Homo sapiens: one gene and its partners. The protein of the gene in region 1 purifies or fractionates together with the protein of each later gene. This does not show direct contact. Each region holds a gene or a part of one and is shown in the gene's direction. Other genes may lie near its edges.

What was found.
Region 2: the proteins of UBN1 (region 1) and HAT1 purify together in Homo sapiens (affinity purification with mass spectrometry, with the first as the bait; one large-scale study listed by BioGRID). This does not show direct contact.
Region 3: the proteins of UBN1 (region 1) and WDR36 fractionate together in Homo sapiens (co-fractionation; one large-scale study listed by BioGRID). This does not show direct contact.
Region 4: the proteins of UBN1 (region 1) and NASP purify together in Homo sapiens (affinity purification with mass spectrometry, with the first as the bait; one large-scale study listed by BioGRID). This does not show direct contact.
Region 5: the proteins of UBN1 (region 1) and CSTA purify together in Homo sapiens (affinity purification with mass spectrometry, with the first as the bait; one large-scale study listed by BioGRID). This does not show direct contact.

The regions. Positions count from the first base shown.
Region 1 is NC_000016.10:4,875,683-4,880,975, forward strand, and holds part of UBN1 (ubinuclein-1), read left to right. Parts: intron 1-1,188; coding exon 1,189-1,429; intron 1,430-1,702; coding exon 1,703-1,792; coding exon of another isoform or gene 1,793-1,923; exon of another isoform or gene 1,924-2,170; intron 2,171-2,256; exon of another isoform or gene 2,257-2,367; intron 2,368-4,400; coding exon 4,401-4,450; coding exon of another isoform or gene 4,451-4,568; 3' UTR 4,569-5,293. UniProt on the Homo sapiens protein: Acts as a novel regulator of senescence. Involved in the formation of senescence-associated heterochromatin foci (SAHF), which represses expression of proliferation-promoting genes. Binds to proliferation-promoting genes.
Region 2 is NC_000002.12:171,959,197-171,965,779, forward strand, and holds part of HAT1 (histone acetyltransferase type B catalytic subunit), read left to right. Parts: intron 1-6,141; coding exon 6,142-6,321; intron 6,322-6,583. UniProt on the Homo sapiens protein: Histone acetyltransferase that plays a role in different biological processes including cell cycle progression, glucose metabolism, histone production or DNA damage repair. Coordinates histone production and acetylation via H4 promoter binding.
Region 3 is NC_000005.10:111,111,057-111,117,639, forward strand, and holds part of WDR36 (WD repeat-containing protein 36), read left to right. Parts: intron 1-113; coding exon 114-222; intron 223-2,017; coding exon 2,018-2,097; intron 2,098-6,583. UniProt on the Homo sapiens protein: Part of the small subunit (SSU) processome, first precursor of the small eukaryotic ribosomal subunit.
Region 4 is NC_000001.11:45,609,537-45,616,119, forward strand, and holds part of NASP (nuclear autoantigenic sperm protein), read left to right. Parts: intron 1-3,632; coding exon 3,633-3,712; intron 3,713-4,559; coding exon 4,560-4,645; intron 4,646-4,756; coding exon 4,757-4,830; intron 4,831-5,476; coding exon 5,477-5,665; intron 5,666-5,768; coding exon 5,769-5,935; intron 5,936-6,583. UniProt on the Homo sapiens protein: Component of the histone chaperone network. Binds and stabilizes histone H3-H4 not bound to chromatin to maintain a soluble reservoir and modulate degradation by chaperone-mediated autophagy.
Region 5 is NC_000003.12:122,334,193-122,340,775, forward strand, and holds part of CSTA (cystatin-A), read left to right. Parts: intron 1-3,354; coding exon 3,355-3,456; intron 3,457-6,583. UniProt on the Homo sapiens protein: This is an intracellular thiol proteinase inhibitor. Has an important role in desmosome-mediated cell-cell adhesion in the lower levels of the epidermis.

The DNA.
Region 1 (5,293 bases):
AGCACCATGCCTCTTCGGAGGCTGTCTGTGTGGCACAGAATGAGCAACAGCCCTTGCCTTCCGTGACCCCTTGCCTCTCCATCTCTCTAAAGGGGGCTGGAAATGCTGTCTTCTATCAGTTGAGTCATGTGGAGGTGTTCATGGACCAGGAATAGCAGGACCTTCTAAGAGTGATTCTGTTGGTTTTTGAAGGACAGAGTCCAATAATTAATGCATCTCGCTTGTGTGTAATCACAGCAGGTTCGGGAAGAGGGAGTGAGCATTTTCTTTTCTTTTTTTCTTTTTTTTTTTTTTGAGACGAAGTCTTGCTCTTTCACCAAGGCTGGAGTGCAGTGGCGCTATCTCGGCTCAGCGCAAGCTCCACCTCCCGGGTTCACGCCATTCTCCTGCCTCAGCTTCTTGAGTAGCTGGGACTACAGGCGTCCGCCACCACGCCCAGCTAATTTTTTGTGTTTTTAGTAGAGATGGAGTTTCACCATGTTAGCCAGGATAGTCTCGATCTCCTGACCTCGTGATCTGCCCGCCTCGGCCTCCCAAAGTGCTGGGATTGCAGGTGTGAGCCACTGCACCCGGCCTCTTTTTCTAATATATAAATGAAGTGGTTGCAAAGACAAAACCATAGAAAGGTCTGTTGGAGGTCTCACCTCCTTTCCTGCACCCACCACCTCTGTAAGGTAACTAAGCTCTTTAGTTTCTGGTTTATTTTCCTCTTTTTAAACAAAAGATTAATAAATATAAATAAAGGTATATATGTATGTGTGTGTATGTATGTATATAAATATATATACACATATAAATATCCATGAACATTTATGGATATCTATATTACATTTTTCCCTTCACAAAGGAGGCTTTTTTTTTTTGAGACAGAGTCTGGCTCTGTCACCTAGGCTGGACTGCAGTAGCGCGATCACAGCTCACTGCAACCTCTGTAGGAGACATATTTAATATCCTGCTTTTAAAAAAATTATGTTCCCTGGAATCCATTCCATGTTGGTTCATAAAGACTGTCCTGGATCCTGTCTTTGGGGCTGCAGGGTCGGAGGGTGCCTCCCAGGGCCATCTGACATGGATGTGTATGTCCTCCTTTGTGGACACACAAGGAGGATCCTTTGTGTTGCCAGGTTTGGTGTGAGTGAGCCACGAACAGGACTGGAGTTCTTACCGCTTGCTGTGTTTCTTCCCTAGAAAGGAGCGAGTGGGACTGTGCTGCTGGCCGGCTCCTCTTTGATGGCTTCACCCTACAAATCCAGCAGCCCAAAGCTGTCTGGGGCCATGAGCTCGAACTCCTTGGGAATTATAACCCCTGTCCCTATTCCTGTCCATGTGCTCTCCTTCAGCGCTGACTCCTCTGCCAAAGCAGGGGTCTCCAAGGATGCCATCGTCACAGGCCCTGCCCCCGGGTCCTTCCACCATGGCCTTGGCCACAGTAAGTGCTTCTTTGCTGCCTCTGGTCACTCAGGAACCTCTAGATTGTGGCCAGGGGTCCTGCTGTTGTGTACTCTGGTTCCTGTGTTTGAGTCTGGTGTGTGACTGTGGGGAACATCTCCGGGAACTGTGCCAAGCCCCCACTGCCCCTTTGGGTGTGGTGCCCAGACTGGCCTGGCAGGTTATCGGGGGCTTTTGGCTGCTGGAGCTGCTTTCCTGTTCCTGTCTTCAATGTGTGTGTTTTGTTCTTTTCTCCCCTCCTGTTTTCTCTCAGGTCTTCTGGCTGGCTTGCACTCCAGCCCGCCCCATGCAGCGCCTCTCCCACACGCTGCGGTGCCCACCCATATCCCGCAGAGTCTGCCAGGTAATCACCCGACGGTCAGTGTGCCACGCGCACCGTGTGCCTTTGCCCTCTCCACCCCTAGGTGCTTTGCCGCTGCCAAGGGTCTTGGTGTCTTTGCCTTGACGCTGTTGTTGTTTTGGTTTGTCCTTTGAGGCTGTGCTTTGTCAGTACTCAGGGTGACACGCACTTCTACTCTTGGGGTTTCCTCTGGTCCCCACTTGGAGCTGCCGCCAGGTCAGCCTCAGCCTGTGTGATCACAGGGAAAGTTGCGGGGGGCAGGGTGGTGCGCTTTTGTGTGCGGTGGAGGAGTTCCTAACCCTCGGCTTGTTTTTTTCTCTTCAGTTTAAAAAAAAAAAAAAAGGGAAGGTAATGGTGCATCTTCTCCAAGGGCTAATTGGGTACAACAAGGTCTTGGAATGCAAGCTGCTCCACTGTCAGATGTGATTGCTTAACAGAAGGCTCTCTAAACTTTGTTTCCATTAAAGGGAAAATCCAGGTAGCAGCCAGAGGCCACAGTGCAAGACTTTGAGAGGAGCAGCTTTAAATCTGTCCAAGTGTGAAAACTCCATCAGAACAGATTTGTGGGAGCACAGCAGGCATGTGGTCGGTGCTCCCCTTAGCATCTTCTGAAATAGGGAACTTCTAAAAGCCTCAGGCTTGAGGCTGCTCTGGTAGCACCTGAGAACTGGGCTCAGGTGCCCCGGGTTGGTACCTTTGCATTGAGTGCGTCTGCCTCACCCTATCCCGAGTCTGCGATTCTTGGGTACGCCTCCTGGAATTCTGGCATGGGAAGTCTCATGGTGTCTCAGCTTTGACCTAGCATTGTTCCTACTGTAGACCCGCTTCAGACATGACCAGGGTGCTACTTGGATAAGGGGAGAGCCGCTCGTATGGAAGCCAGCCGAGGTAACCCTGGCGAACTGGTGCCAGGTGGAAGTAAGGACCCTCTGTGCTGCACGTCTCCCAAGTTACATCTGCCTCATGATGTGCTGTGGCTCCCTGGCACCATGGCGCATTATAGTAAACACCAGAGGCCATATGGGGCAAGACTAAATCTGTAAATCTCCACAATGGAAACTGTGCTTCTTTGAGGGGCTAAGCCTATAGCACTAGTGACTCCTCCTTTCCTTGGGAGGAGAAGTAAAGTGCAGTGACTTCTCTACAGACTAGAGGCTGCAGAGCCACCTTGGTGAGAGCAGGGGTCTTTCCAAAGTCAGGCTGCCCTGCCTTTGCTTACTCTCAGGAATGTTACTCTCAGAAAAGCAAAGTAATTGAGGCCGGACGCGGTGGCTATCACCTGTAATCCCAGCACTTTGGGAGGCCAAGGCAGGAGGATTGCCTGAGTCCAGGAGTTCAAGACCAGCCTGGGCAACATGGCAAGACCCTATCTCTACATTTAAAGAAAAAAATTAGTCAGGTGTGGTGGCATGTGCCTGTAGTCCCAGCTCTTTAGGAAGCTGAGGCAGAAGGATCACTTGAGCCGAGGAGGTCGAGGCTGCAGCGAGCCGTGGTCATGCTACTGCACTCCAGCCTGGGCAAGAGTGAGACCCTGTCTCAAAAGATTGCTTTCTGCTATATTTTCATTTTTCCTCTGGGTATGAAAAGGCTATCAGAATAGGAAGAATAAGTGCTAGTGTTCTATACCACTGTAGGGTGACTGTAGTTAACAGTAGTATGTAGTTTCAGTTAGGAGGAGGATATTGAACGTCGCCAGCAAAAGGAGATGAAAAACGTTTGAGATGATGGATATGCTAATAACTCTAACGTGACACTACACATTTTAGATGTTGAAACATCACTATGTACCCCATAAAATATGTGTCATTATTATGAGTCAGTTTTTAAAACTGTTTAAGGCTCTCAGAGGCTGGATGTGGTGGCATTGAGAGGCAGGAGGATTGCTTGAACCCAGGAATCAGAGGGTATAGTGTGCTGTGATCATGCTTGTGAATAGCTGCTGTACTCCAGCCTGGGCAACATAGTGAGACCTCATCTCTAAAAAAATTTTTTTTAATCAGTTTAAAAGTTCGAGGAAAAAGAAAATCAATCAGAAAAGCAACTATACCAAAACAGGGTTATCCAAGTGAGCTTCTCTCACTTCCTTAGATGGACTTCAGCTTATAGGATGACACGAGATGCGAGTAAGAAGCTATTTGCGCATTTCAGCTGCGTGACTTGTGTCTGCGTTGCTTTCCTTTCTTTCTTCTGTGGACTGAGAATGCTAGTGCCTTTGAATTTGTCTTTACAGGACCTGAGGGTCTTTTGATGGTAAGAGAATGAATGATCATTGCTGCCTTGAGTTCTGTGTGATCGTCAGGCCTCGCCTCAGGATGGCAATTGTAGCCTGAGATGACGTAGCCCAAGTTGCACAGCAGAGTTGCTGTTCTGGAAACACTGTGCTGAGTGACCACCGACCTTCACAGTGCTAGTGTGCTTGCAGGCTGTGGCCAGGAGTAGTGTACACGAATAACTGCTGGCTGGTGTCTCATGGCTTGTTTGAGCTCTAGAACACTCAGCATTTGGGGACTTTTGCTATTTAGGTGTCTCCCTTGAAGTTTGGTTACTACTGCCTTAAGGAAATCAGAGAGCATGAAAAACTTGCGTTCTAATTTTTCTTACTCTTTTCCAGGTGCTTCTCAGCTTCACGGGAAAGGGCCTGCTGTACCACGGAAATTGTGACCGCTTCAGAGGCAAGGCTTGCCACTTGGGTCTGGGTGGAATCAGAACGTGCAGGTCTCCCAGGATGTACACTCACTGCGCCCTTTCTGCTGCTTGGTGTTCTTCTGGAGGAGCGTGAGTTCTCAGCGGAGCGCTTCTCGGCACTTCTGATGTGCCTCCCATGGAGGGAGCCGGGCCCTTGCTGCTCAGGAGGTGCAGACTGCCCCGTGCTCTGGGCCTTGCAGCTCTGTCGCTAGACGGTTGTTAGAGGGGCAGCTCTAGGCTGGGGCTTGCGCTGGGCCGTGGTGGGAGGCACAGTGTTTACAGGCTCTGGTGGCAGAGCAGTTGGCACACCTGTGGGTGAATCTGCCTGATCCCCTGGCATTTGGTCAGAGTACCTCAGAGCACCCCACTGCTCAGGGGCTCCTTCTGGCTGCAGTAAGCTCCCTGGATGGTCACAGTGCCGCCCCATCCCCAGGCTGTGTGCTCAAAGCGGACAAAACTCAGGCCAGAGCCACAGCTGGGAGACCTGCACTGTCCCTGCGAAATACTAAGAACACCTAGGGTGTGCTCACTGTGGGGGCCAGTTTCTCCTCGGAACATGACAATGAAGCTCTTTTAGAGAAAAGACCTTTGTAGATTCAACAATTATGATAGGATTTTTACAGACACCTATTTTGGGCTCAGTTTTCATCATTACCATTAAATGCATTGGATAGAAGGGGACTGTTCTTCACACATCATATTATAGGAAGACATAATTCCAGTGCCTTTATGGTGGAGCAGAATTCGACAACACATGTCCATTCAGCCCTCTGAATGGATCTGAGACGAAGACCTTTTTAAAGATATGTCTGTATTGAA
Region 2 (6,583 bases), on another chromosome or scaffold:
TAACACATTTATTAAAATAGAGTTTTTTCATAATCAAATATGTAGATTGCTAAATTCTCCAGACCCAAGCCCAGCTAGATATTCTTATTAAAAATGCAGGTGATGTTTTTCCTTGTGTGTAAACCCACTGTTGGAGGGTTTTTGTTTTTTACAGTTGCAGCTGATAGCACTGAATTGATTTCTTCCAAAGGAACTATTGATTTAGTTATAGATAAATCTTTTAAATATTTCATGCAGTGAAAATAGCTGTGTATTTGCATTGACATCTAATTGTTCCATTCTTGAAAATTAGGTTTTTCCATTTAGAAATACTGTGTTAGGAATAAGGAATCAATCTTTTATAATGTCTCTTTGTAGAGTTACTTATTTGCTTTGTGGTCAAAGATCATTTATATTGCGTATTCAAACAAAGACTTTTTTCCCCTTATTAAAAACGATTGGGTAGGGGATATGTGGGTCATGGGCTTGCTTCTTCTATCTCAGTTTGCAGTGAGTGTTCATTCCATAGTGCCTTCTGTGTTGTTGATGCCAGCGATACAGTGGCAGACAAAGTCATGGAGCTTACATTCTAGCCAAGAGGAACAGTCAGTAAACAAAATAGTAAATACACAAATTAAATTCAGGCAGTATTATGAAGATACATTTTGCTCATTTCTGAATGATAAAGGAGGAACCAGCCATGTTATAATCTGAGGGTAAAGCTTACTAAGATACAAAGGCTCTAAAAATACAGCATTTTTGGCATTTTTGTAGTCCAGAAAGATTACCAGGGTTAAATCATTGTGGTGATGGAGAGAGGGGTAGGAGATGGTTGAAGGGGATGCAAAGCTAGATCATCATATAGGATCTTGTGTTCTGTGATAGGTGTTTGCAAGAAATAAGAGTAGTTGGCATTCTTTAGAGGCATTCTTAAGTAGGTGGAGGTCATAAACAATGTGATTTATATTTTTAAAATATGATTCTGGCTGCTGTGCAGAGAACACACTGTATAGGGCAAAAGTGAAAGAAGAGACCGGAACATTGCAGTGTTAGAGGTGACACTGGACTTAGTTGTCAGAGTAAGGAACATTTTGGAGGTCTGCTGTTGAATTAGATGTGACAGATGAAGAAAAAAAACGAGAACCCCATTGCCCAAGTTCAATTATGGTACTGTTAACTGGGAAAACTATAGAAGAAATAGGTTTAAGTGGAAACAATAAAAAAATTTTATTTTGGATGTTAGGTTTGAGTCTAATATATTAGGGCTTTGCAGATCATACTGCATAGATGGTCAGCAGCCATAACATCTGCTTAGAAGTTATTTCTTATTAGGATTATGTCATTACATTAATTTTTAATCATCCATTCTTTTACTTTTCCAAGCTGAATGCTCTAGTTGCACCTAAAATTCTTCAGTCACAATTAAGATGCCTATAAAATCTCTACTAGCCACCATCTTTAAAGGAAACATAATTCTGAATTTTACAATACAATAAACTTGATTATTCAGACACTGATGATTTTTTCATCTGGTTGTCCTTGACCTTTGCTTTTATTAACACCTCCTGCTCTGTGCTTGTAATGCCAGCTACTCTGTAGGCTGACTCAGGAGGATCATTTGAGGCCAGGAATTTGAGACCAGCCTTGGTAACATAATAAGACCCTGCCTATTAAAAAAAAAAAATGCTGAACGTGGTGGCTCAAACCTGTAATCCCAGCGCTTTGGGAGGCCGAGGTGGACAGGTCACTTGAGGTCAGGAGTTTGAGACTAGCCTGGCCAACATGGTGAAACCTCATCTCTACCAAAAGTGCAAAAATTAGCCAGGTGTTGTGGTGCGTGCTTGTGGTCCTAGCTACTCAGGAGGGTGAGGCAGGAGAATCACTTGAACTCGGGAAGTGGAGGTTGCAGGAAGCCGAGTTCGCGCCACTGTACTCCAGCTTGGGTGACAGAGCAAGACTCTGTCTCAAAAAACGAAAACAAAAGCTAGGCATGATGGCATGCTCCTGTAGTCCCAGCTACTTGGAAGGCTGAGACAGAAGGATCTCTTGAGCCCAGGAGGTCAAGGCTGCAGTAAGCTATGGTTACACTACTACATTCCAGCCTAGGTGACAGAGCAAGACTCTTGTCTTAAAAACAAAAACCTCCTGCCTTTTCTTGGGGGTAATTTCATTGCCTTTTAGTGAAGTAGTGGGTAACTAAGATTGTTGTCTTGCTAATTGCTAGCATTTCTGGGAAAAGTTTGGTACAGGAAGTTGAAATAGATGGATAAAGTTTGTATTAACTGTGAATTTCAGTTATTTTATCCTAGTGTCCCACTAATTGGATTGAATTTGAGAGGATATGAGAGCAGATTTTAAAAATTTTATGGAGTGTTTAGCCTCTTTCTAGGAAAATCCTACATACTTCCAGAAATTTCGAAAAAATCTTTGGTAGACTAGTAAAATTTCAAATTGTGATGGTGTTCTTGATAAGTAATACTTTTTATGAAATATCATAAAGAGCTTTAAAAGTATATATTGACAAGTTTATCTTGTTTAGTTCAAGTAGCAAAATACTAATGCAGTGTAAATAAACATAATATGACCTTTGTTTTTCCATTAGTGAAAAAGTTCACACTTTTAATTTCTCAACAATACATTCTGTAGTTAAAGCTTAAATATTATCAGAGAACATGAGATTGAGAACATTAAGTAGATACAGAATTTCTTTTGCTTGTTTTTTTTTTTTTTAGCATATTTTAGGTAGTCTTAGAATTATAGTTAAGTCTATGTACCACTTTAGCCAAGTAAAGAACAACATGTTACCACCTACTTAACGTGCCTTTAATTTCAATCTCAAAAATAACTAGACAAATTTAGACAAATGGTGCTGCTTAAGATAAGATGTTAGAGAGGTTATTGGGTTTTCAAATGTGTATAAATACAAATATAAACATTAAAAAAATAGATTACTAATTATCAGGCATATCGCTTTATTCAATAATGAGGAAATGCAAAAATTGCTCCATATGAACATGTTCATGTGTAATAAAGTACAGAACACTGGAACTTGAAATGACCATAGTTAAATAGTATACAATCTAAAAATATTTCATAATGACCCACCTACCAGAATATCTAACTAGAATACTTTTGCACTTTCCTTTTTAAAAATAAATTACCAAGCGTTAGGAAACCATTTGTAAGAGATGTCTTTGTTAATTAAATATATCAGGTTGTATTCTGGTTTCTTTTTTTGAGACGGAGTCTCACCCTGTCACCCAGGCTGGAGTGCAGTGGCGCAGTCTTGGCTCACTGCAACCTCCGCCTCCCAAGTTCAAGTGATTCTCCTGCCTCAGCCTCCCAAGTAGCTGGGATTACAGGTGCACACCACCACGCCCAGCTACTTTTGTATTTTTATTAGAGACAGGGTTTCACCATGTTGGCCAGGCTGGTCTCAAACTCCTGACTTCAGGTGATGTGCGTATTTTGGCCTCCCAAAGTGCTGGGATTATAGGTGTGAGCCACCATGCCCAGCCTGGTGTCTTTTTAAAAATTTTTTTGAAATTCTAGTTCCCTGGTGTGTCTAGTCAGCTGAATTTCTTACCCTTTCTATATTTCTGTATAATTTTAGTTGAAGTTTAGAATAATGCTCTGGAATACAGGGAATTTTTCAGTGATCTTCAGAAATAGATTCTAAACTTTTAGCCACAAACATTGGAATTAAAAAGTTTCTGTTCATTTTTAACTCTATTCAATTAACAATGATTAAATGAGGTCTTGCTCTTGTGCTGATTTTATTATCTGATCAGTAATCCAATCTGAAAGACGAATATTTTAAATTAAACTAAATTATATATTTGAGAAAAGAGTACAGATCTCTAAGACATGGTAGTCAGGATTTTTTTTTTTCTTAAAGCAGAATCCATTTAATAGAGAAATGCAGACATTTTCCCTTTAGTGAAGCGAAGTTGTAAATTCTAGGTTGAAGAACTATTTGGTTTTAAGTTGTATATTTTATGTAAGTATATCAGATACATATTTATATACATAACTATTTATAAATATATATTTATATAATTATATAAAGATTCCTTGCTTTAAAATTGCCCTTTGCCCCGTAAAAATTCTTAATGTGTAAACTTACACAAAGCAAACTATTTTATTTGAAGATATTTATTACAGGAAATAGACATCCTTTGAAGGCTGAAAGCCCTTTTTCAACTTTGTTGGGCTCAAACCTTCTGGTTGCTCTGCCCGCCACCAAAAGTGCTACTTGAAACTTAGAGTTTCTGAGAAGTCTTTGAAGTAGATTTGATACAAGATATGTAAAGTGATTTGCAATGCCTTCTTGAGAAGACAGGACATAAGGAAAGTTTTTAAAAGTTAAAATTATACATGCTATGAAAGTCTTAAAGTGATTTTTAAACTGATAGATTATAAATCCCTTTTTAAAAGTAGTTTTTCTTGGCTTTTTAAAAACCTTAACTAACATACTATACTGTTTTACTCATCACTACTTTGGATTTTAATTGCTACACAACACATCTATTACAGCTATCCCTCATTATGACAGTTTCCTTGATAGCTGTTGAAATTGTACTGATACTATAAAATATGCTTACGATGGCCTCTTCATGTTAGCAATTTCAAGGAAAAATATTTATCAAATAGTACTTTAAAAATAAGCAAAAACTGTCCTATGAAATGCAGTTTATTTGATCTAGAGTGTGAATGAGTTGCAAGGACTGATGTACATATTAGAAATAAACTGTTGGGCAAAATGCTGAAGAGCTATATTTTCAATAATAGGTCTTTTTTATACCTATAAACAAATTATATATAAATGTTGGTGGTACCAGAGCATTGAAAATAAAACTTGTTTGTGATAAACGTCATCACTGGTTCTCTATCCTGAAATGTAACTGAATCATAATAAAGTGCTATTCATCTGCAGGTGCATTGCTTCTACTTAGTTAAAAGATGGTTGAAAGGATAGGAATTAGTAGCATGTTGTATTAGCCTTTTGTAGTGTATTTTGTCCTAAGCATCTTAATTTCCCTGTTTTGAATGCTAAGTAGCAAGGGTCTTGGTTTAGAACTAATACCCATCATGCATGTAAACGGTATGAAAGAGCTGCTTAGTAAGTTAACACAAAGTGTTCTTGTGTCAGTCCTTGTGGAAATAGATACAATACAAACATTACAGCTGAACTCACGGCAAACTCCATTAAGTAAAAACCTGGCCTCATTGTTCAGGAAAAAGTTTGAATAGAATACAAGCTCATTTTGTTGAATGTAATGTCAGGCTTTTAGGGACTGTATTGAGGGATAAGGTTTTGTTAAGTTGAGACCAATTCATTAAGTTTTATTGCCTGGTGAGAAGCAGCAATACTTTATTGTAAGACTTCATCAAATATTCATGGTTAAAGAGAAGTAGTAAATGTATTCAATCAAGTGGTCTTTTGGGATTTTGAAAAGGATTATGAAGTCTGCTCAGCTGATAACATTGATAGAGGTTGTTTAACAAGGGTAATTTTAATCTCCGAGTTTAGTTTTGTTGTCCAGTCTTGTCTCTTTTTTACTGTCACAAATCCAGGTCTGTAAGAATTGTGTCACATTCTAAGGATAAAAGAATGATATATCCATTCATATAATTTATGTTATTTCCTAAATATGTATATTTTTAAGTTATCATCTTAGTTTGAGTTTGGCATATGAGGGAATTGTGACCCATCTAGTTGTGAGATTGCTATTCATTTGGTCAGACTCTAGTCTCATCTCACCACTGCTGGTGATCTTTTCATGTCTTGGATAATATGATTTCTTTGACACATATAAAATAATAAGCAACCTTTTGCCTTGGCCAGTTCAGACTGTCATGAAGGGGTATAGTCAGCTGTTTCTGCATAATGGAAATGTCCATAGCATTGCCCTTATTATTGTACTTGGTATCAGGTCACCTGCCTTCTCTTATTTACTTTTATATTATGCTCATCTCAGTTTTGTGTGATGCAGTTTGTGCACAGGAAGCTCATCCTTTTCCAATTCGCTGTGTGTTTACTTCTTTAGTTTTCAACCAAAGTTTTGTAATTTGTGTTGGTTTTGTCAGTTTTAAAGAAATAAACCATATTCAACTTAAAGTCGAATTTGTTATTAATTTTTTATATCCTTTATTCTTTAGGCAGATGATGTTGAGGGCAAAATTAGACAAATCATTCCACCTGGATTTTGCACAAACACGAATGATTTCCTTTCTTTACTGGAAAAGGAAGTTGATTTCAAGCCATTCGGAACCTTACTTCATACCTACTCAGTTCTCAGTCCAACAGGAGGAGAAAACTTTACCTTTCAGATATATAAGGTAAAGATAAATCTAAATATTTATTGAGTAAAGTTCTATTTGCCTGAAACCTGTATGTAGTTTTGTTGTCAGTGATTTATTCTAACTGCAGTAAACAAGTTTTAATCAGCATTATAAACCAAGATCTATTTTGTGTGTATGTCTGTATCTATGTTCACATCTTAATCTGAGACTTCTAAACATTTTCCCACAGGATAATTTTGTGTTCTGCGGACTTTCACTTACCTTTGTGATGAGTTTCACCTGACTTTTCCTGGCTTTT
Region 3 (6,583 bases), on another chromosome or scaffold:
ACATTTGGCTTAATTTCCCCCAAAGTGTACTTGATTTAACAAAATTCAAGTGGAGGTGAGATTTTAGTTCAAGGGTTTTTTGTTTATTAAAACTGGTGCATTTATCTTGCTAGTGGCATTCTGGGACTCGCCTTGGATGACTTCTCCATTAGTGTTCTGGACATAGAAACTAGGAAGATTGTCAGAGAGTTTTCTGGACACCAAGGCCAAATAAATGACATGGTAAAACAAACTCTAACTAATAAAACTTGACTCATTTCTACTTTTGTTTGGGTGTGTTATCCTTTAATAGCCTTAAAATCATTATATGAGGTGGTTATCAATTTTAATTTGCAGGCTATTTTTCAAAGATTTTAAAGGAAAATTTTGAATTAAAAGTTTAATATTTTTCAGGGAGTTGATGCGATCAAATTAAAGTATAAGTTTTAGAACTCATCTTTTTTTTCATTAACTCTAAACAAGGCCAAAGTATACTTTAGAGAATGAATGATCCATTGGTATATATGTCATTCTTAACTTAATATTAAAATAGGCTGGGAGAACTCATTTCTGATTTACTATGTATGGAATGAATTAATAGTAGAAGACCATTTCCCTGGAATATCTGGTATCTGGTTTATTTTAGTTTAGTGCTATTTCTAGAGTTTACATATCTTAACTCTGAAAGGGTTTAATTAATAAAAATGTGCTTAAGTTTACTATTATGTTCTTATAATGGGATATATGATATGGAAAGAAGTAAACTAGTTTAAATAGCATATTTCATTAAAAAGAACTTTTAAAATAAATTTGTCACTTGAGGACCATATTAAGTGTATATTATCATCTTTCATCAATTGCAGATACCTTGATTTGCTTGAAAATAGAAAAAGTAAAATAAAAATAAAATCTTAATACTTAGTGACGAACCCAACAGCTGCATTTACTAGTTCTCACACCAAAAATCAGAATTTACTCCTTTCCTTCAAAATTGAAGAAAAAAAACATGGTCAGGACATTGTGTTCTGCAGATAGGAGGCTGGCAAAATTATACATCAGCAGAATTTGTTTTGACAGCATCTGTAGAAATGAGGGTGGGATTGGGTTAATTGTGCTGAAATGGCACTTTTGAAAACATCTGTCAGTGTCAAGTTGCTCTTCCTATTTCTTTTTCAAACCTTACTTTCAACTTGTATATCTCGAGTTTCCCTGCTCAGTAATAAGTTATTCCGGTTAGTCAAATCTGTGAGCATTTATAACATGACTTTACCTCTCAGAATCATTCTTTCCCATCCTTTACTATCTGTACCACCCTTCTGTAAATTGATCTATCTATAACTTGAGATTTGAGTTCCCATTGTATTACTGCAGCCTGAGGAACAAATCAACATTTACGTATCCCAGTATCATCTACTAATTTAAACTGATGGATGAACAGTCTACTACAACTGTAAACTTTAAAGTTTTTCCTTTTGGGTCATCTTTCACCTGTGATCTGGTTTGTGCCTCACAACCCTTAGGTACTACAGGCAGAGAGATCTATTATTTATCCATTTTCATAGCTAGAAAAAATAATGGGTGGCATAAGTAGTTTATTTAAATTTATTTTGAAAATCTGATTATTATAGTTTGTTTAGAAATAAAGCATTATTAAAAGAGAAAAGATTTTTAACTTAAGCTTCAAGAAAAGTAAGCCCTTATCACACACATAAACATTGTCTATAAATAAATAGAAGATTGTGATTTGAAAATTAATGCAGTACACTTTTTTAACTTTTAATAATTCATTTAAAAGTCTAATCTTTATCCAGATTCCAAATCAGTGGTATTTAGGAAGTGGTATTTTCTTTTATATAAAATAAGGCAGCCTGAATGTTAGTCAAATTAATTTTTTTATGAAGCCTGCATTATCTTTTCATTTATTACATTCTTTAAGGTGTTAACTATATATACATACACACATACATACAAATATATTCATATATATTTATATATAAATAATATATATATATATATATTTTTTTTTTTTAATTTAAAGGCTTTTAGTCCTGATGGTCGTTGGTTAATAAGTGCTGCGATGGATTGCTCTATTAGGACTTGGGACCTTCCTTCTGGGTGGTAAGTTTATATTTCTAATTCCCTAACCTCTATAAGATTTCTAAGTTATTTTTTTCACATGTGACTTTTACCGATAGTTAATGGGTTATATGCTTTTTCAATGTGACTATATTTGGAGATTTTTCTGACATGACTATATTGTATCCTTGGAGTGTTTTTGATAACTAAACAGCAGGTAGTAGTGTCATGAAACATAATAGAAAAATGAAATCTCTCTTAGGTTTTCTCATCCTGCAAAATTGAGATACAGAAGCGAGATGCCTAAACCTTAAGAAAGCTCATTTGACCTTTTTGATACTCCAAAATAAAGCTCAGACTTAAGGATGGCAAACTTTTGAGTTTTTTTAGTTCATGCTGAATTTAGTTAAAAGGTCAAACCCCCTAACTTTTCCTTTTTGTATGTCTCTTCTGCTTCTCTGACATAATTCTTAAAAGAAGGCATTTTAGATAGTCTTAGTGCATTTTCTGTTGCTTATAACAGAATATTGAAACTTGGTTATTTCTAAAGAAAAGGAGTTTATTTCTTACACTTTGGGGGATTGAGAAGCCCCAGGTCAAAGGGCCATATCTGGTGAGAGCCTTCTTGCTGGTGGAGACTCTGAAGAGTCCCAAGGTGGTATGGAGAATCACAGAGTAAGGGGACTGAGCGTGATAATGTAATAGCTTGAGTCTGTCTTTCTCTTCTTATAAAGCCACCAGTTTCCCTTTCATGATAATCCCTTAATCCATGAATGGGTTAATCCATTAATGAGGACAGAGTCCTCATGATCCAATCACCTCTTAAAGGCACTCCCTCTCAATACCATCACATTGGGGATTAAGTTTAAACATGAGTTTTGGAGGGGACATTCTAACTATATCTTAAAGTGGTGAAAATGTGTGTCTTCGGATTTGGTTAAAACGTAACAAATGTTCAGAAATCTGTTTCATGGGTTGAAATTTGCTGCTAATCCAGGGCTTTAAAGAGAAAGTGGTATGAACAGAGGAGACATACAGAATGTGTCGGCTTTGTTGTTAAAAATTAAGTAGGTATAGATACCATTTAAAATCATCTCATTTAACATAGGATTGCTTAGATGAGTATGAAGAAAGGAAGAATTGTGGGAATAGCAAAACATCTAATTTAACAGTAACATACCATTAGAGAAAGATAGGTGAGAAAAATGAGAAGGAAGGTGGTACTTTTTAATCTAAAATATTCCCAAATTAAGCTCTGTTCACTTCCTCTTCCTACTCAGGAATTGGATAAGCTCATACATGAAAACAGTTTGACCTTTAGGAAGGAAAAACCCTGATGTCCTCAGTTCCCTTCGAGTTCGAAACAGGCCTGAGGCATACCTACCCATCTTGCATATACACTGGATTTGTAGTAAGCACAGCTAACGATTGTCACTAGTGGGTCCAGCTCTAATAATCAGGGACCTTTGTCCACAGGTTTGTCTCTTTCACTTAAAATAGAGTGAAGCAAAATCGAATTTATTGACTGTATCCTCCTCAGGCTTCAGAAAGTTCACTTAAAGTTGGTATTTCTTCAATTAAAAAAACATTTTGTTAAAGACACTATTAGAAATATTAGTGGTCTGTCACTTCTTGGGCTGTTGCTATTTTCTAAAAGTTAATGTTATATAATTTGAATTGCTTTAAAATAAGAAAGTTGTATAAATAGTAGAGTTGGCATAGTGCCTTTTTCATTTTCCTGTTTAATAGTTTTAGTTTATATTAGTGAGAGAGATAGATTATTCAGTAGTAGTAAATTGGCAATGTATTATAAGTGGTAAATTCGTCTTTGGAATGAAAAAATTAGGATCTGAAAGTAGCATTCAAAGCCACTAACCTTTGACTCAGCATTAGCCTTTTGCTGAATTTCTTATATCAGTAAGAAGTTGAACAGATTCAAATCTGATAGATTTTCAGCTCTAGTATCTTTATTTTTAGGTGAACAGGCAATTTTAAGTGAATAGAGAGGCATGAAGCTGGGTGTAGCACAAGAGCAAGAAGTGACCACATCGAATTGTTAAAAGAAAATGTAATAAAATGTACATTGATTGAAGAAAAGTATATTTTTATTAAAGAAAAAAGTTTTGGTTAAAATTTGAAGTGGACCAAATGAGAGAGCTTGAATAACTATCCAACAACTGCTGCTGCTTAATTGCAACTAAGCTAAGATTTACAATGTGCTGCTAGGCACTGTTTATGCTTTTATTTTTCATATCCTAACAAGTTGTAGGTACTATTACTGTTATTAGTCCCATTTCAAAAATGAGGAAGTGGAGGCTATTAGAGAAATTAAGTGATTTGCCCAAGGTGACTTAGTTTATAAATGACAGAGCGCAAAATCAGCACAGGAGAAAGAAATAGCTTTCTTAACACTTATGTTATCATCTTTGCTCAGACTGTGTCTTGTTTTAAGTATGAACTGATTTGCTTGGAAAAAAAAAACATAATTAGTATGACAACCTTTGGAAATTCCTAGTTCTTCTTTCAATTAAATAATTTGAATAATGAAAACAAATTACATAGCCTGGAAAGTGAAGCTATCTATGAGTAAACCCTTGAGTGTATTAACATACAGGTATATCCATCTGGAATTGTGCCTATCTGAAACAAATTGCATGGGTATTAAAGTTTCCTGTAAAGTTTTTTTAAAGTGGTGAAACATTTTTTATGTTTGTAAAATTTTCAGAGGAGCAAAGTTGAAATTTTTTATCTAAAATTATCATTCCTCTGCCACTACCACCACCTTTTATGTCTGGTTGTTTTTGATCTAATAGAAATTCAGATTGAATTCTTTCTTATTTTTTTTTTCTGAGACCAAGTCTTGCTCTGTCGCCCAGGCTAGAGTACAGTGGTACGATCTCGGCTCAGTGCAACCACCGTCTCCCAGGTTCAAGCAATTCTCCTGCCTCAGCTTCCCGAGCAGCTGGGACCACAGGCGTGTGCCACCATGCCTGGCTAATTTTTTTTTTTTGTATTTTTAATGGAGCTGGGGTTTCACCATGTGGCCAGGCTGATCTCAAACTCCTGACCTCAAGTGATCCACCCACCTCAGCCTCCCAAAGTGCTGGGATTACAGCCATGAGCCACGGTGCCCAGCCAGATTGAGTTCTTTGAGGGGTGAGAAATATATAAAATTAAATAATCTTAATAGAATTTTTCATTTGTTCTGTCTCACCCCACCCCTACTTCCTGAGGAGAATTACATGAGAATAATTGGAATAGAACATTGTTTTCAATTTCTCACTGAGGCAGAAACATCCCCTTCTTCCTTAAAGATTTCTGTGGAAGGTGATTTTAGCACTTTGGAAATAGAACATATGGAAGCAGTCTCCATTTGCTCAGAATAATAATCAGAAACAACCTTCTGAATTGTTATGCAGGGCTCTGATCTTGTAAATCTGATCTCTTAGAATAGGAATTGTTTTAATATTATTTCAGAAAAAATTGTAAGGTACCTTGGGACTTACTTTTTTAAGATTACCATGAAACTGTATGGTAGTTTTAGGTCTGGGATGAGCCTGTGCATTTATGTTTCATGAACTAATGTGGCAGTGTAGAATATGCTGTGTATGTGGAAACCACCTTCCTCAATTTGGTGGTTTTATATAATGGAAGTCCCATCTACCCACACACCACAGCTGTGGAAATGAAGTTACACAATGAAGTTGACAAGATAATTATAGTTTGAAGTAAAATAAGTTTGCTCAAGCAGTAAGCTTTTTAACAGATAGTACCTAAACATGTTAGGAAGTTTTACCCTTCACGTATGTAAACTTTTGATGAGTAATATTAAGACAAAGGAAATACCTTAAGATTTGAAATTGCCGTGTTTTAGGTTTAATCTTTATATGTGTTAGGATAATATCTTCATCTCTGGATTGTTTGGATTAAATGACTTAACATAAATAATTTAATAGTGTATGGCATAGAATAAGTATTTAGCAAATGTTTTCTTTTCCCCAATTCTCTTGATTCCCAATAAAAGCCATTCTTGTGGGCTTTCAAAACAGACTTGAACAGAAATCAGACAGGTTATTGCTCCCTTCCCCATAATGGACAATTAAACAGCAGTCCTTTTCCTGAACACACTTTGATGTGTGTGTGTTTGTTTCCAGTGCTTCTAATTGTTGTCTTTTCTTTCCATCTTGCATTCATTGTTTAAGGTTTACATTTTTATTGGCTCTTTTAGCAAATTGAGAGAGGCGTTTTACCATGGGCAAGCAACTTAATGCCTCCCACTGGACAGTCTTCATTTACATTTGAGCTGCTCACAGTGTGTGTCCCATGAATCACTGATGTAGGCATACCCTCAGTGTGTGTAAGCTGTTGCCCTGTTTTTGTGTTTTAGTTTCAGTAGTGGCTTTACTAGAATTTATATTGGCTAACAATATAAATTGGGTAGAACTGCTTGGGTAAAAATCCTGACCCAGTTGCTTTCTACCTTGAGCGAGTTTTCAAATCTTACTGGGCCTCAGTTTTCTGGACTGAT
Region 4 (6,583 bases), on another chromosome or scaffold:
ACTCCCATGTCTTGATCTTAATGATTGTGAGCAAGGATGGTAAAAAGCTCTGCTGGCTGACCCCTAAGACCTTGAATGGTAAGCTACAATACAGATATCACAGTCCCTTACAGATTGTTCGAAAACTCGTTGGATCATAATTAACATTGTTAGAACTCTCATACATTACATCTGATCCTAAAACAATACTATGTGATAGGTAGTATTGCCCAAGTTACAGTGATGAGGTTGAGGTTTAAAGGTTACATGACTTGTTTAGGGTCATAATACTGAATCTGAACCCAGATCTGCCTTGAATATATTATTCTTCCCAAGTTACCACACATTGAAGAAGACAGTGTTCATCCTTTTCCTACACCCACTGCTTAGAAATTTTGTCGTGGGCTGGGCGCAGTAGCTTCACACCTGTATCCCAGCACTTTGAGAGGCCGAGGTGGGCAGATCACATGGTCAGAAGTTTGAGACCAGCCTGGCCAATATGTTGAAACTTTGACTCTACTAAAAATACAAAAATTAGCTGGACGTGGTGGCATGCGCCTGTGGTCCCAGCTACTTGGGAGGCTGAACCAGAAGAATCGCTTGAACCCGGGAGGCAGAGGTTGCAGTGAGCTGAGATCATGCCGCTGTGCTCCAGCCTGGGCAACACAGCGAGTCTCTGTCTTCCAAAAGAAAAAAAAAATCTGTCACTTATTTAAAAAGTTAACTATATTTTAAAAGCCCCAGGCTTTTCATATGCTGCATTTTTTGGTGTTGTATATCAGATACTGTTCTGCTTGTAAAGACAATACAGTTTTCCATATTTTACAAAAGAAGAAATGGGAGAAAGGGGTTTAAGTAACTTGCCCTAGTCACACAGTAAGGAGAAGCCTGCTACCCAAACTTCTGGCTTGAGTACTCAACCACTTACTTTCTGTGCTTTATTTCCCTTTACGTGGCAGCACCATTCTGCAGAAAACTTCCAAGCAGTTTTTTTCACTTAAAAATTAAAACCCTGTTTACTGCCACCTCTTGACTCTTTGCCATGTGTTGGGCTGTACATTTGCTTCTAATAAAGATAATTGGTCTGTTCTTTTTCTCTTTGAATCGGGTCTTGCTCTTTTGCCAGGCTGGAGTACAGTGGCATCGCAGTCATGGCTCACGACAGCCTCAAACTCCTATGCTGAAGCCATCTTCCTCCCTCAGTCTCTCAGGCAGCTGAGACTATGGGTGTGTATCACCATGCCCAGCTGGGGTGCAGTGGTGCGGTCTCGCTCACTGCAACCTGCATCTCCCAGGTTCAAGCGATTCTCCTACGTCAGCCTCCTGAGTAGCTGGGACTAAAGGCACATGTCCCCAGGCCCGACTAATTTTTTTGTATTTTTACTAGAGATGGGATTTCACCATGCTGGCCAGGTTGGTCTCGAACTCCTGACCTCAGGTGATCCACTAGCCTCAGCCTCCCAGAGTGCTGGGATTACAGGTGTGAACCATTGCACCTGGCCCACCATACACCATTATCTTCTCATATCCACATTTCCAAGTGGGTCCGGGCTTAGTTCCCCAAAGTTAGACCAGATGGATGGTCTTATTAACTCTGCCCATCCTCTAGCAGAATATGCAGAAAAGCTGAAGTAGATTTACATATGTAGGATAATTGATAGAAAAGTAAATACTTCATCTTCCCAATTTGTAGGAAAAATTAAATTGATATTGTTATCTTCTATTCTTACCTGGTATCTCTTCCTACTCATACCAGAATACTAGAAGACAACCTCTAATTTGAAACAAAATATCTTAATTACTTGGAAGTTTTACATCAAATTTTTAAATTAAAATTCCTATAATTGCTTCAGAAGAATATTACTGGTTCCTCTTGAGGAATCTGTACCATCTTCAAGGAATGGTGGGGAGCTAGGTTAAGGAGAAAGCCATCGCCATTACTTTTTTTTTTTTTTTTTTTTTTTTTTTTGAGACAGAGTCTTGCTCTGTCACCCAGGCTGGAATGCAGTGGCGTGATCTAGGCTCACTGCAACCTCCGCCTCCTAGGTTCAAGTGATTGTTCTGCCTCCGCCTCCCGAGTAGCTGGGACTACAGGCATGTGCCACCACGCCTGGCTAATTTTTTGTATTTTTAGTAGAGACGGGGTTTCACCGTGTTAGCCAGGATGGTCCCAATCTCCTGACCTGGTGATCTGCCCACCTTGGCCTCCCAAAGTGCTAGGATTACAGGTGTGAGCCACCGCGCCTGGCAGCCATTGCCATTACTTTAAAACCTTTCCCAACTTGTGCCCAGGTATCAATGGCAATGCCCTGATGTCCTCAGTAAATTTGTTAAAGTATCTTTTTTTTTTTTTTTTTTTTTTGAGACGGAGTCTTGCTCTGTCACCCAGGCTGGAGTGCAGTGGTGCGATAATCCGCTCACTGCAAGCTCCACCTCCTGGGTTCACGCCATGCTCCTGCCTCAGCCTCCCAAGTAGCTGGGACTACATGCGCCTGCCACCACACCTGGCTAATTTTTTTGTTTTTTGGTTTTTTTTTTTAGTAGAGACGGGGTTTCACCATGTTCGCCAGGATGGTCTCAATCTCCTGACCTCGTGATCCGCCCGCCTCGGCCTCCCAAAGAGCTGGGATTACAGGCGTGAGTCACCGCGCCTGACCCTGTTAAAGTATTTTCTAAGCTTCTTTGAAAACGGAATCTCTTTGTGGTTGCTGCTGATAAAACTCCTTTGACCTGACGATTGCTCTAAGTCCTAATTGCCATATTTATATTCCCATAGTAAGAGTGTTTGGAGATAGTGTTTGAGCTTTTTTGCTGGTGTTAAAAATGCATAATGAAAGATGGCAGAGAGAGGCATATTATATCCAATTCATGAGTTGTTTGTGTTAACAGAAAGCTTATTTTAATCACTTAACATTGTTGATTTGTCTAATCACAGTAGCGCTATTGATTAGGAGCCTGACCTTTAGATGGTTGACTTGTGAGTGTATTCAATATGGTGAAATATGGTGTTGATATATGGCTGCAGATTTTAGAGGTGTCATTAGCAAAGGTATAGGAGTAAAATAGGGGTTATAGTATTCCTTACTCAAATTCTGTATGTGCTAGAGCTGGCTGGAGTCTGTGGCATGCTCATTGGTGTAAGTCGGTAAGGACTATGCTTTTTGCTCCACATCTCTGTTGTGGGAAAGCTAGTCTCTTGAGCATTCTTGATCAGAATGGACTGGAATAATTTAACTTTCGTACTTTCCCAGGCTATTAGTATTATCTAATGAGTGGCTTAAAGATACCAGAAACACTGACTGAGGTCTCCACCTGCTTCTGGCTGAATGAATGGGAGCTTCTAGCCATTGAATAAGAGGCAGTAGCCAATGTTTCTTATTCTGAATGGTCCAGGTTGACTTTTATAAGAGAAACACTCAGCCTTTTAATTGCTGAAGGTCTGACCCATAGACTAAGATTGCACATTCTTAGTCTAGGTTACACTTGAACTAGACTGCACCCACTGACGATATATTCAGTTCAGGTGTTAACTCACTTGGATTAGCATCTGGCCTGTCCTATCTGAATATAGGTTGAGACGTGTATTGGAATCTCTGACTAGTCAGAATACGTTCTTAGTTATATTCTCAATACTGAGGAATTTTTACTTGTAGAAACTGAAGGCTCAGAAGAGGATGATAAAGAAAATGATAAGACCGAAGAAATGCCAAATGATTCAGTCCTTGAAAACAAGGTATGTTGTTAGCCACTCAGTACTGTTGTCAGCCTTTTTCTGTTTTTGGGAGACTGGAGCTCACTCTTGTTGCCTAGGCTGGATTGCAGTGGGGTGATCATGATCATGGCTCACTGCAGCCTAGACCCGGGCTTAAGTGATCGCCTCACCTCAGCCTCTCAAGTAGCTGGGACTACAGGCTTGTGCCAACATGCCCAGCTAGTTTGCAGGACTGTAGCTTACCTAGTTTAGGCACGATTATTATTTTTTTAAGAGATAGAATCTCTGTCTCTGCCCAGGCCGGAGTGCACTGGCATGATCAGGGCTCACTGTATCTTTAGCCTCCTGGGTTCAAGGAATCCTTCTGCCTCATCTTCTCAGATAGCTAGGTCTCCAGATGTCTGCCACCATGTCTGGCTAATTTGTTCTCTAATTTTATTTTGTTTAGACGGCTGTCTTGCTGTGCTGCCCAGGCTGGTCTCAAACCTGGCTTCAAGTTATTCTCCTGCCTCAGCCTCCCAAAGTGTTGGGATTATAGGCATAACCCACCATGCCCAGCCCTAGGCATGATTATTATAGATAACTGTCTCTTGATTATGGATTAGGGACCCTTTATTCATGCCTAGGATGGGTGGATATATTTGATCCTGGGGTTCTTGTGTGTTAGTATGTGAGCCAACATTTCACTGTTAAAATATCAGTGACATGGTCATGACTTAAGACAGTATGTGGACCCATTCTCTAGATTTTAGGGAGAAAGTCCAAATTTTGAATCGTATATCAACTTTTTTTAAGCTACGCTAAGTTATACATTTAGATTTGTATTTGAAAAAGATGCCTATCTTTTTATTATTTGGTTATACTTTAGTCTCTTCAAGAAAATGAGGAGGAGGAGATTGGGAACCTAGAGCTTGCCTGGGATATGCTGGATTTAGCAAAGATCATTTTTAAAAGGTAAAACTCTTGGTGCTTCTAGGCTTGGGTTGGGAGTTTGGTGGTTAAATAGAAACCAGTTAGGGTTAGACAGGTACTGTTAAGGTTTTTGATCAATTTTCCTTCTTTTAGGCAAGAAACAAAAGAAGCACAGCTTTATGCTGCCCAGGCACATCTTAAACTCGGAGAAGTTAGTGTTGAATCTGGTAATGCATTTTCCATTTTATACTCTCCTACTCTCTTCAGCTCCCTCGTTCTTCCTCTAATAGATTCTCTGGAACCGAACTTGATCTTTAAAAAGATAGGTCTGTGTTCCCTGTAGACCCTGGAACAATGAACAGTCTCTTCCAAGTGGCACTCAGTCTTCCAGTAGGTTTGTTTTGTTTTGTTTTTTTTGAGATGGGGTCTTGCTGTGTCGCCTAGGCTGGAGTGCAATGGCGTAATCTCGGCTCACTGCAACCTCCGCCACCCGGGTTCAAGCGATTCTCCTGCCTCAGGCTCTCGAGTAGCTGGGATTACAGGCACCCACCACCACGCCCGGTTAATTTTTGTATTTTTAGTAGAGACGGGGTTTCACCATATTGGCCAGGCTGGTCTTGAACTCCTGACCTTGTGATCTGCCCGCCTCAGCCTCCCAAAGTGCTGGGATTACAGGTGTGAGCCACCACGCCCAGCCTCAGTAGGTTTTTAAAAGTCATTTTGACTTTCTTTATAGCCAAGGGTCCTGGAAATAACTATAAACAAAAATGGAATGTTAAATATGGGTGCATTCCCATAGGATGGGTCTGAATTCTGGAAGTATTTTATGTTGAATGCTGTCCATTTACTTGCTCTTCTTTTTCTCTTTGTTAGAAAACTATGTGCAAGCTGTGGAGGAGTTCCAGTCCTGCCTTAACCTGCAGGAACAGTACCTGGAAGCCCACGACCGTCTCCTTGCAGAGACCCACTACCAGCTGGGCTTGGCTTATGGGTACAACTCTCAGTATGATGAGGCAGTGGCACAGTTCAGCAAATCTATTGAAGTCATTGAGAACAGAATGGGTGAGTGAAGACGAGCTGCTTCATGGTGATGTTGGATCCAGCAATTAACAAGGAAGAAAACAGTTCTTTTTTGAGCCATTACTAATCACTTTATTCTTTTTAGCTGTACTAAACGAGCAGGTGAAGGAGGCTGAAGGATCGTCTGCTGAATACAAGAAAGAAATTGAGGAACTAAAGGAACTGCTACCCGAAATTAGAGAGAAGATAGAAGATGCAAAGGAGTCTCAGCGTAGTGGGAATGTAGCTGAACTGGCTCTGAAAGCTACTCTGGTTGGTTCCGTTAACATTTTGATAATAGCATGTTTGGTACCATTTATGTTAATGTTCTATTTGCCAGGAACTTTTCATCATGACTTGGTTTCCAGGGAGTTGGTGGGCTCATCTAATTATTCCTATCAAGTAATGCAGTGGTTAAGAGGAAATACCCTGGAGCCCCAGACTATCTGGGTTTTAATTCCATACTTACGTGTGGCCATGGGCCTTTCTCTCCCTCAGTTGACCGATTTGTAAAATGGGGATAATACAGGTTGAGTATCCTTACCTGAATGCTTGAGACCAGAAGTGTTTTGCATTTCAAATGCTTTTGGATTTTGGAATATTTGCATCATACTCAACAGTTGGATACCCTTAATCTAAAATCTGAAATGCTCCAGAGAGCATTTCCTTTGAGTGTCAGTCAGTCCTCAAAAAGTTTCAGATTGTTGGATTAAGGGATGGGATGCCCGACCTGTAGTACATATGTGTAAAATATACTTCTGACAGTACTGGAAAAATAGACATTTCTTAAAAAATGTAAGTTGCTATTTCCATCTCCAAGAACTCATTTGCATAAATTAATGAGGCATTGAGAGGCATTCACCACAAATTGCCTGGTTCTGTTTTTGGCACAGACCTTTTTACCCTGCAGGTAGGATATAG
Region 5 (6,583 bases), on another chromosome or scaffold:
ATCTCAACAGAACAATCACACTTTTCCCGTCTATTCTCAAGGTTACAGGAGAACTGAGTGGTGGTCCGTGGAGTGTTTGGCCTTTCAGAAATGGTCTGAGAACTCACAGTTTGCATATGTCTACATCTTTGAAAACAGTTCTGGTACTCAAACTGAGGCATCAGTAGTAAAGGTTCAAAACATCTGCCCAGGGAGGATTGTTTGAGTCCGGGAATTCGAGGCTGCAGTGAACTATGATCACGCCACTGCACTCCAGCCTGGGTGAGGGGGAGATTCTGTCTCTTAAATTTAAAAAAACAAAAAACAAAAAAAACCTGCCCACTGATAGGAAGGACTGCCTTGGGAGAATCCTAGATGGACTGGAGGCCTGATTGAAGTTGTATGGACATGCAATGCTTTCATGAAGGGCATAAAAGCAAGTTCTCAATAAACAAGGTACATTCAACACAGAGAGTTATATCCTTTTTCCTCCAAAAGACAGAAAAGAATTGGGGTTGAAGGACAAATCCACAGACATAAAGACAACAGGAGATAGGCAAGTACCACCTCAGAAATACCAATAAAATTTTGGAAGTTGGAAAACAGATGAACAATGGAAAATGCTGAGCAGTCTAAACAGAAGCTAAGCCCATAGAGGGGAAAGTCTAAGCCAGAAGCAAGCAGATTCACACTGCAGAACGTCACAATGGCGCAGGCATGAGCAACACCAAAAAGTCGTAGCCAGGAGTAAGGTCTCAGACCAAAAGCAAGAGGACTGATCTGTATGAAGGACAGTGAGACCTCCCATAGTTCCTTCTCCCTCACTGTCCTCCACCCCGGCAGAAGACGAGCTTTACACTTAGCAGGAACTGAGTCAAGAGCTCATAGTAGACTCTTGCATATCAGGCCCAGCTGAGAGTGGGAATGAAGCACTGTACAGAAAGTTGATGGGCTCAGTAAAAGTTTACATATTGAATTTGGGACTGTCTCCCTTCTCATGCTGGGTTCGGGAATGCTGACATTTAAACCCAACCCATATCCCTCCATGGTAGACAGAATGATGGCCCTCCAAAGATGTCCATGTCCTAATCCCTGGAACCTGTGACTAGGTTCCTTTACACAGCAAAAGAGACTTTGCAGGTGTGATTAAGTTAAGGCTCTGGAGATGGAGAGGTTATCCTGGATTATCCAGGTAAGCCCATGCAATCACAGGGTCTTTATAAGAATTATACCCAAATACTGCACTCTAGTTAGTATATTGTTTTCCACAGGGGTATAGGTCAACAATTCTGAAATTATTTTATGTATATGCTAGAACTGAGAAAATAGGCGAATACATTGCAAATAATAAGAACCAGGATTCTTCCTCAGTGTTTGAGAAAGGAGTTATAATAAGGAAAAGGGAAAAGCTAAATGAGTCCTGTGGTATTTGATTTATTTTATTATTTATTTATTTATTTATTTATTTATGTATTTTGAGGCAGAGTTTCACTCTTGTTGCCCAGGCTGGAGTGCAATGGTGTGATCTCGGCTCACTGCAACCTCCGCCTCCCAGGTTCAAGCAATTCTCCTGCCTCAGCCTCCTGAGTAGCTGGAATTACAGACACCCACCATTGCGCCCAGCTAATTTTTGTATTTTTAGTAGAGACGGGGTTTCATCATGTTGGTCACACTGGTCTCAAACTCCTGACCTCAAGTGATCCACCCGCCTCTGCCTCCCAAAGTGCTGGGATTACAGGCATGAGCCACCACACCCGGCCGTGGTATTTGATTTTAATCAGAGGAATACACACACACACACACACACACACACACACACACACACGTACACACACATATATAATGTATATATATAATGACACACAGATAAATGTGTGTATATATGCACACACATACACAAATGCGTAAAGATGTGTGCATGTGTGAGTACACATATTATTTTGTAGCCCTTTCCACTGAGTGGGCCTAGAAGCAATGACATTTAGTAACAAGAGACACAGCACCCAAATCTTGGGTCTTAAATACCGTTCTCCAATAAAAGGAGCAGGGACTCCTTGGAGAAATAGTTGATTCCAGTGAGGAGGCAAGGAAACTTCAAGATAAACCTGGAACATCTGACTCTACTTTTGTAGAGTCAGAAAGTAAGGAAGTGCTTATAAAATGATGGAGGCATGTTGAAAGAACACAGGCATCAGGTGAAGGAGCTCCCAACGGCCAAATCTAGGGCATTTGAGTAACAAAATAGAGTAATGAATTGTAATCCACAGAGTAAAAGAAATATCCATGAGTCATATTAATATAAAATAAGTAATTGACTACATAAAGAGGAGAGAGGGAACAGCTCTTCCTTATGGCAGAATTCCAGATAATAAATGCACAAGAAATGATTTTTTAATTACCATTTGGCCAACACCACAATTAATCATTGTTGTAGGCAAGAACCATCAATGGATGCTAAAATTCATGTATGAAAGTATGGCGAGAAACAAGACTCCTCACAAGACACTTACTAATTACAAAGGGGAAAAAAATGGTAACTTTACCGTGGAGAAACCTGGCAGACATCCTAAGTGATCAAAATTAACATCACCAGTAATGAAACGTAGCTCCTGATAGGATGCACTTAAGCACAACATCACGTTTGTGCTATCCTTACAAACATGTATAATACTAACATAAGAGGAGATCACACAAACCTAAATTGAGAGACATTCTACCATTTAACAGGCCAGTATTCTTCAAAAACATCAAGGCCATGAACAAAAAGGAATGAACCCAGATTGTAGGAGACTGAGGAGAAATGACAACTAAATGCAATGTAGGATCCTGCATGAGATCCTGGAGCAGAAAAGAGACATTTTCAGGAAAACTGGCAAAATTCTGATAAGGTTTAGAGACTACTTAATAGTATTATACCATGTTAATTTCCTCATTTTGGTGATTATACTATGTTATGTAAAACGGCAAAATTAAGGGAACTGTAAATGATATAAGAGAATTCATTATACTAATTTTACAACTTTTAAGTCTGAAATCATTTTAAAATAATGTTTTAATCAAGTAGTAATTATTGCTCCACTGATTTTTATTAATCAAAGATACATATAACTCTTAGAGTTTTAGCAGTCAAAACGCTCCTATATTGCATTACCACACTGAGTTGATGTGAATTCAGCCTAAAGCAACAAAATTTGACTTTTTAACCTATGTAATTGTATTAAAACAGGTGTTTTCTATTGAAATAATAAAAATAGTTCATAGATTTCATTACCATCTTTGAAGACTTTTAGGAGGATGAGGTTCCCAGATGGGTACATTGCATACATGGAGTCTAATATAGCTTTGATTATTTGTTTCCTCTTTTCTTTTCTTTAGGTTAAACCACAGCTTGAAGAAAAAACAAATGAGACTTACGGAAAATTGGAAGCTGTGCAGTATAAAACTCAAGTTGTTGCTGGAACAAATTACTACATTAAGGTTAGAGTTCAGCACCTACTTTAGCGCCAAAAGATGTATTTCTCATTTTATGTAAAATATTCCCTGATTTCCCTACCACATAATTCCTTCCTTACGGTTGTCCTAAATTAAGATGCCCAGCATGATTCCTTCCAAGTGGTGGACTCTCAAATTTGGTAGATGATGTGACACCATTTTTTTTCTTGTGAATTCAGAAAGTTTTATTACATTGATTCTTGATTTCTGGAAATTGTATAGAAAAAGATTTCATAACAGTTCAGGGCATGCTGGATTTGTGGCTGTGCTGCTGCTTAGGTAAGGAGGGAGGATCACGTCTCATCTGCCTGAAGGTGTGGGGCTGGACCACATGGTATCTTGAAGCTGATTCTACCTCAAAGCTGTATGATTCTCTATGTCTAAATTAAATAAATTAAAGTAACGACTCAAATCATTAGCTGGGAAAATAATTTAAACCTTTTTTGCCCTTCAATTAATATAATGTAAATACTATTTTGTAACTCAAATTAGATTTAACTTGTGGCACTCTAGGCATAGTTTAAAAGAGTGGAGTATTTAAAATAGTTTAAAAGTTAATTTTATAGCTCTGTCAAAAAATTACACAATGCATTGATCGAGTTCTAATTGAAGTTATCAAGAGGAAACCAGTTGAACAAGTCAACCATGAATATTTGAGAGCCATGTTTGTCCTTATATATTAAGAAGATGATAATGCTGATTTTAAAAATAAAAACAAATATTCAAGTATATTTACTTAATCTTTACTTCACTATTTGACCAGGGCACAGTGTGGCTTATTTCTCTTTAACAAATATTTCTATTAAAATATAAACATTTTAAAAGATTTTTTCAGCAAAAAAAAAAAAAAAAGTAAGTGAAGTAAGTGGAGCTAGTCAGCTCAGCATAAGAAAGTTTCAGTACAGAGCTATGTACACAGATCAGCCCTGTTCTGCCAAATGTGAGCTCCTAGTAACGACCAGGTCCCGGGGAGACACATGTGAAAGAGGACCCTGCTGTATCCTCAGAAAACAATGGCACCATTTCCTCCATTCTCAATCTGCTTTCTTCATGGCTGGAAAAGAAAGTTTTCCAGTTAAAAATGATTATGTGCAAAGATAGGAAACATTCCATCAACATTAACATATTTAATAATTTATGATTAATTCAAATGCATAAATTTCACATATTACCAGCTCACATGTTTCTTCAACAGTTCATCAGATAACTATCTTGAAAATTTCTGCTTGAAAATTTGTTCCCTTGACCACCCTTTTGCCCTCTCTTAATCAGTCTCCTCTCTCTCTCTCATCTTTTCTTCCTTCTGCTATCAAACTTTTCCTACTGGATCTCAGCCACCGATCCCAGTTCCCTTTTACTTCCTGGTAGTCTGGCTGTTGATCCCTTTGCTCTGAGGCACTCTAGATTTAAGGTCTTGCCAGTGATGTGACCTTCTCTATGTATTTCAAGTACCTATCAAGAGGTAGGTGGTAGAATGGAAGGACCACAAGCTTAGGTGTCAGAGTGTCCTGGGTTTGAACCCTTGTTCAATTTGTTCTATGGGAAGCTCCTCCTCCTCTCTGAGCCTTCATTCCCTTATCTGCACAATGAGGGTAATAATCTACTTCGCAGCGTGTTGTGAGGAATAAATAAGCTGGAAATTTATTGAGCACTTATAATTCACTATGCACTATTCTAAGAACAGGGCTTATCTCATTTAATCCTCACAACAAATCTATGAGATAAGTACAATCACTTCTCTTGGGTTACCAACGAAAAAACTGAGTTCCAGGGTGGTGAAGAAACTAAAAAGATCACACAACTACAAGAGCAGAGTCAGGATTTGAACCCAGATAGACTGAGCTTAACTACTGGCTGTGCTGCCTCTAATATAAAGCACAAAATAAGAGCTTTTACAAGGTTACACTGGCCTGGTGTGGTGGCTTATACCTGTAATCCGAACACTTTGGGAGGCCAAGGTGGGAGGATAGCTTGAAGCCAGGAGTTTGAGATCATTCTGGGCAACATAGCAAGACCCTGCCTCTACAAAGAAAATGTTTTAATTACCTAGGCATGGTGATGCACACCAGTAGTCCTAGCTACTTGGGAAGCTGAGGTAGGAGGATCACTTGAGCCGAGGAGTTTGAGGTTGCAGTGAGCTGCGATCGCACCACTGCACTGTGAGCCAGGCCTCATTCCCCGATCAGTACCCCCCAAAAATGTTACATTGTAGAGTGAAAAGAATGTAGATGCTAGAGGCTAACAGATCTGGGTTTGAATATTGGCTGTGCCACTGACTAGCTGAGAGATTTATGGAAAATCACTTAATCTCTCCTACTCTGCTTCCACGTCTGTAAAAATTTCATTGCTCCACTTTTCTTCAGGCCTATAATATAGGTTAATATAATCATTTATATAAAATGTTCATCATAGTGTCTGGCTCACAGTAAACATTTGATATATGGCATTTGTTAAAATTAGGATAGGAAGTGACATCAGAAGCACAATAAATATTTGTATAAGACAAAGCATTTATTGTCTCCAGCAAGAACCAAAGTAAAAATTCTTACCATAATTTTCCAGGTCTCAGATTCATGTCCAAACTACTGCTTCTGCTTCAACCTTCCTACCAATGACTTCCTAGTAAAACCCCTTAGCTTTTTTTTTTCTTTTCTTTTTTGAGACGGAGTTTCACTCTGTCACTCAGGCTGGAGTGCAGTGGCACAATCTCGGCTCTCTGCGACCTCCACCTCCCGGATTCAAGCGATTCTCCTGCTTCAGCCTCCCAAGTAGCTGGGATTACAGATGTGCACCACCACACCCAGCTAATTTTGTATTTTTAGTAGAGACCAGATTTCACCATGTTGGCCAGGTTTGTCTCAAACTCCTGACCTCAGGTGATCCACCCACCTTGGCCTCCCAAAGTGCTGGGATTATAGGCGTGAGCCACAGTGCCCGGCTGGCCCCTTCACTTTAGAAGGGAGGGTGTCCGCCCCCTGGGCTCTGCTCAATCCTACCAGTGGGTGTTTATAAAGTAGGTTCTGATATAGGTATGGGAACCCTGCATCCCAAATTTTCTAGGGCAATTCTGATTTTCTTCTCCCTTATCAGACTGTATGGCAAACAAAGTGTC